Regions from separate parts of the Homo sapiens genome. Here region 1 is linked to region 2. Evidence: fine-mapped expression QTL. A gene starts in region 2. The other region holds a variant in brackets. All regions are shown on one strand. Distances are from middle to middle.

Region 1 (3,034 bases), 27 kb before region 2:
TCAGAGTAAAATATTAACTTCTATTTCTTTTTCTTGCGCAGGAACTGAAACATTTGATCTTGGAGGCAGCAGATGGCTTTCTGTTTATTGTCTCATGTGAGACAGGCAGGGTGGTGTATGTGTCTGACTCCGTGACTCCTGTTTTGAACCAGCCACAGTCTGAATGGTTTGGCAGCACACTCTATGATCAGGTGCACCCAGATGATGTGGATAAACTTCGTGAGCAGCTTTCCACTTCAGAAAATGCCCTGACAGGTGAGAGTTATGTGTATGGGAAATGAATGAGAAGTCCTTTCTTGTTTTTTTCCTGAGACTTAAGAGATGTTTTAGCTGTTAAATTGGTTTGTTGACTCTGGCAAGGCTTCAAGAATTTTCTACTTTAATGAATATAGTCAGTTCTTTTTATCCATATGAGATTATCTACTTTGTGGCTCAGCCTTAGAAAATATTTCATTGGTGATAATATTTTACATTTATCTTAATATTGGTATAAATAGAACAGTAAAAGCCAAACCTACAATACTTTTTTTTTTCCGTTCTAAAAGAATTATCCATGTTTTTATCTCATTTGTATGGATAATTATCTGGTATTTTTTCTACCTCCTGGTGCTTGGCTTTGTGCTAGGTTCAATGATAACAGCTTTTTATTCTATAGATATGGTTATTGGTCAATGTATAAGGTGTTTTCTGTTGTTGTTGTTGTTGTTGTTTGTATCTGTACTGTTGTTCTTTTTTTCTCCCCTATTTTATTATGTTCAGTCTTTTGGCCAGAGTTTGGCTAGAGGAAACAAGTCATATCTATTCTTGAGCAACTCTAGAAAAAAATTTAAAGTGGAAGCAGATAAAAAAACTGGTAGTTAAAATGCAAGAAATTTCAATATACTCATATTAGTGTTGTTGATCTTTAGTTTTCCTCCTTTTTTCCCACCCAAAAAAGAGACAGGGTCTCTCTCTTGCCTAGGCTGGAGTACGGTGGCACATCATAGCTTACTGTAATCTTGAACTCTTCTGGGCTCAGTAATCTGCCTGCTTACAGCTTCTTGAGTAGCTAGGAGTAGTTCATGTCACCACACTTGACCAATTTTTAAATTTTTTGTAGAGACAGGTTCTGTCTGTTGCCCAGACTGGTCTCAAACTCCTGGCCTTCAGCATTCCTCCTCCCATCTTGGCTTCTCAAAGGGCTGGGATTATCGGCATGAGCCACCACACTTGACCAGTTTTCCCCTCCTTTATGTTTTTATGATTTCATTTTTCTAGTTCTTCCTTTTCCCCAAAAGTTGTTCTTCGTTTCTGTATAATAAAGAAGACAAACAGATCTATATGTTTCTATAACATATAAAATTACTTGGTTTTTTTCTTTTTAAAATTTTTTCTTTTTATTCTTTTTTTTTTTTTT[G/TTG]AGACAAGGTCTTGCTTTATTGCTGAGGCTAGAGTACAGTGACTCTTCACAGGCACAGTCATAGCACACTACAGCCTCAAACTCCTGCCCTCAAGCAGTCCTCCTGCCTCAGCCTCCTGATTAGCTGGGACTACAGAAAAGTACTTGTTTTTCAACCAATGACATTTACTCTGTATGTATGTCTGTATGTGTATACAGATAATCAGCTATGAGAATATAGCCTTGCCTCTTGTTTTCTACTACTACTTTCCACTCCTACTTTTCCTTGCACAATGTTATTTTCAATGCTGCCTTTGAACTTAAGAGTGAGATTCATTGATGATAATTGAAGTATTTTAGGCTTGAAAAAAAATTCATCTCCTGCTTGGTCAGTTCTGTTATAAGCAAGGAGATTAAGGGCATGAATAGGATGCTTACTTATCTTTGCCTTCAGTATCTCTCCCCCTCTTCCCCACACACAAAAATGCACTCCAGACTGCTCTTCACATCTTCCTTCAGGGCGTATCCTGGATCTAAAGACTGGAACAGTGAAAAAGGAAGGTCAGCAGTCTTCCATGAGAATGTGTATGGGCTCAAGGAGATCGTTTATTTGCCGAATGAGGTGAGTGTCAAGCTGAGGATTGTGATTTGGTATAGGAAGGATCAAGAGCTGAGAGTTTTATTTCTGTCAGAGTTAAGTTGGATTAGCTCCAGTGGATTAAATTTAACTCTCCATACCCAGATGGATTGTAACACAGAATAAAGTATTTGGAAAGGGAACTAACGTTTCTGAACTTGCCAGACACTATGATAGGTGCTTTATATCTGTCATCTTATTTTATCCTCACAATTGCCTTGTAGTGTAAGATTGATGGTTACCATTTTGCAGATGGAAAAACAGATATAAAGAAATGAACTTGGCCAGGTGCAGTGGCTCAAGGCTGTAATCCCAGCACTTTAGGAGGCTGAGGCGAGTGGATCACCTGAGGTCAGGAGTTTGAGACCAGCCTGGCCAACATGGTGAAACCCCATCTCTACTAAAAAAAAACAACAACAAAATTAGACGGGCGTGGTGGCGTGCGCCCATAATCCCAGCCACTTGGAGGCTGAGGCAGGACAATTGCTTGAACCCAGGAGGTGGAGGTTGCAGTGAGCCGAGATTGTGCCATTACACTCCAGCCTAGGCAAAAAGAGTGAAACTCTGTCTCAAAAAAAAAAAAAAGAAAAAGAAAAAGAAATGAATTTCCCACTGTTACATACTGTTTGATACAGGATTTTGTTTTAATTCATAGTAGTCTGACTACAAAACCTCTACTTTTTCCCTGTTACAACACAAGGCAATATCCATTTACTCAGACCATTTCTTCTTTTTTTTTTTGGTTAGAAATTTGAGACTTCCTATGTCTTTCAGTAGGTGTTTAGTGTTTATAAATTATATACTGTACGTTTTAGGATTCTGTAGAAAATATGGTGGTCCTTTCTATACAGGTACAAAAGGCATCTCAGGGTCACAAAGTTCAGGCTATATAATGGAAATTGACTACATTGTACTGAGAGGATAGTTGCTAGAAATTATGGGTAGGATATTAAAGGTTTGCTTGGAGAGGCACAAAATTGAACATTATGTGGTTTAGTGATTTATTTTTATTTTTATTTATT
Region 2 (2,738 bases):
ACATGCTTTGGCCTCCCAAAGGCCTGGGATTACAGGCGTGAACCACTGCGCCTAGCCTGTTAGCAGCTCTTAAAATCCAGAGGCATAAGCCTGTATTTTTGAGGGTTTATGCATGGAATCCAGCTAGAAACTGAGTCTATTACAGATCCCATTTATTATCCTTTCTATTCCAAGAAGCCTTTTTTTCTCCTTCCCCACATCTGTTTATGGAAGAAAATGAAGTTTGGGGTGTGGTTTGAGGAATCAGCTAGATTCTTATGATCTGTCACATGCTTGGATGTTGGGGAAGCATTTGGAGAAGCTCATGTGACTTGTCCTAGATTGGGGATTTTAATTGAGACAGATGATGTTTATCGGGCATCCCACCACCTGAGAGTTTTAGCAACAGAGTCACATGTGAGTCCATCAGAACTTACGGCATTGATTCAAGTGCTGTCATAAATAACCAGGACTGCTGTTTTTGGTTACTTTTAAAGACAGTTTCATCTGGACTTTCTGGGCATATCCTCCTTCAGCAAAACCACATTAGGCTGGGAAAACTATTCTGCCTGGAAGTAATGACAACTTGCAACCAACAAGCTTATAAAAATACAAAGAATTCTGGAGCCTATGGCTTCCATTACATTATTCTTTTATAGCCTTTTATGTTCATTACCGCATCCCAGAGGTGAGAGTCAGACACAAATATGAAAATAGGTTTCAATGTTGGAGAGGTAAATCCTAACAGGAAAGGGGTAGGAAAAGATATAATCCCCCAATATTAAAATAAAGATATTGAAGAAGAAGGATGGGAGAGACTAGGGCTGTGTCCTTCCTTTTACTCACCAAAAGAGAAAGTAAGCTCCTATTTGAGTCAATAGATATTGAGGTCTTGTTATTTGCCACCAAAGACAGTCTTGTGAGACTAAATAGCTAGTAATTCCCTACCCTGGCACACATGCTGCATACACACAGAAACACTGCAAATCCACTGCCTCCTTCCCTCCTCCCTACCCTTCCTTCTCTCAGCATTTCTATCCCCGCCTCCTCCTCTTACCCAAATTTTCCAGCCGATCACTGGAGCTGACTTCCGCAATCCCGATGGAATAAATCTAGCACCCCTGATGGTGTGCCCACACTTTGCTGCCGAAACGAAGCCAGACAACAGATTTCCATCAGCAGGTAACGTTTGCAACTTCCTAGATCTTTTAGCTTTTCATTCCTGTCAATTCTCTGAGTATTAGGGATGTAGTGACTTGAGGATCACAATAAACTTTTAGCCTCTGCAGATGAAAACAGAGATGCACTTCTTAGGTCATTCCCTGGCTAAATAAAATCTGCCTGGAAATCTGTAGAATTCCTTGTATGATTTATATATATACATACATGATTGTTAGTAAAAGCAAAGTATATAGGGAATCATTTCCCCATCCTTCAAGAGTGGCCTTTCTGCAGTGTTTTCTACTTTGGCCAACAAGGATCAAAACGGTTAACTCCTTAGTGAGGAGGAGGAGAGTGGTATGGGGAGGTAGTAGCTCAGTGCTTCCTGTTCACTGAGACATCTCAAAGCCCTTAACACTCTAGTTTTTAAATGTCCTACTGGACATTTTGCCAGTTTGCAAAATTACATGTAAATGGACTATAAGCAATTGTGTAAGCCATATGTCATGCTGCAGGCTGCAAATTGTTCTTAAAATGGAGGATTTGTAATTAAGAAAGCCAATGCAAGAAATGAGTGAAGCTAACTAGAGTAAACTTATGAAAAGCTGTGAATTTCATCATCATAGAACATTGCTTTTCAGTCTGAACATTCTTCTAACAAACCTTGGATCTGAGGCTTCTTGTCCTTTGCGGCAGCCACAGTGGGTTTTTGTTGTTAGGGGAAAAATAAAAAACCTTGCCCGCAGCATCTGGTTAAGATTAGGGCAGTTTCCTGCCTAAGGAGGGAAGGGAGAGAAAAAGGAAGAAGAAATGCATAAGGAGAATGAGGAGATATACAATGTCTCAGAAAACAGGAAACATTGTCCTATTTTCCCTTGTCCTCTTCTGACAAGATCTGGGAAAGTACCAGAATTTAGGCACGAAAGAGAAGAACGCCTCGAAGAAATGATCAGGAGGCAAAACTTAGACGGAAATCTCTCCTTTGTGTATTCTGAACCCCACTACCACCTTGCTATTTGTCTGTCTCCAAGCCTGCTAGGGACCCTGGAGGAAACGCACTGAGCCCATTCTGATTGTCCAGTTTCTATCCCCCATTTCTGGTTGTGTACGTGTGTGTGTGTGTGTGTGTGTGTGTGTGTGTGTGTGTGTGTGTGAGAGAGAGAGAGACAGAGAGAGAAACAGAGAGAGTGTGTGTTGCCTAAATCTCCCGAGAGAGAGAGAGAGAGAGAAAGAGAGAAATGGCTAAATCCCCCTAGATCAAAGTCCTTGGAACCAGATGTACCAGCATCCTATCTAAACACAGGCCCCTCCTGACTATCATTGTTTTATCACCCTTTTTCCGTCTACCTTTCTCTTCCTCATAAAGCCTAGTTTTCCTCTGTTTCCCTGCCAAATGGAAGAGTTTTCCCTAACTACATTCTTCTGCAGGATGTGGGGGCTCAAGGTTCTGCTGCTACCTGTGGTGAGCTTTGCTCTGTACCCTGAGGAGATACTGGACACCCACTGGGAGCTATGGAAGAAGACCCACAGGAAGCAATATAACAACAAGGTGCCTGGGGTCCTGGAGGGGGCATGGCAGGAAGGCTGAGACCTGAGCT

What was found.
Region 1: its variant is fine-mapped to the expression of CTSK in whole blood (INTERVAL, PIP 0.97).

Annotation. Positions count from the first base shown.
Region 1 is chr1:150,833,501-150,836,534 of GRCh38, reverse strand. It overlaps ARNT (aryl hydrocarbon receptor nuclear translocator), which reads left to right. Exons shown (of 22, transcript NM_001668.4): 7 at 42-255; 8 at 1,895-1,997. Among named protein-coding and RNA genes, the nearest start is that of CTSK, 27 kb to the right of the region's middle. RefSeq lists a cis regulatory region at 122 and an enhancer at 50-194. The variant G/TTG (reference allele first, on the strand shown) is at 1,397.
Region 2 is chr1:150,806,637-150,809,374 of GRCh38, reverse strand. It overlaps CTSK (cathepsin K), which reads left to right and starts at 1,115. Exons shown (of 8, transcript NM_000396.4): 1 at 1,115-1,161; 2 at 2,569-2,689. The coding sequence starts at 2,570.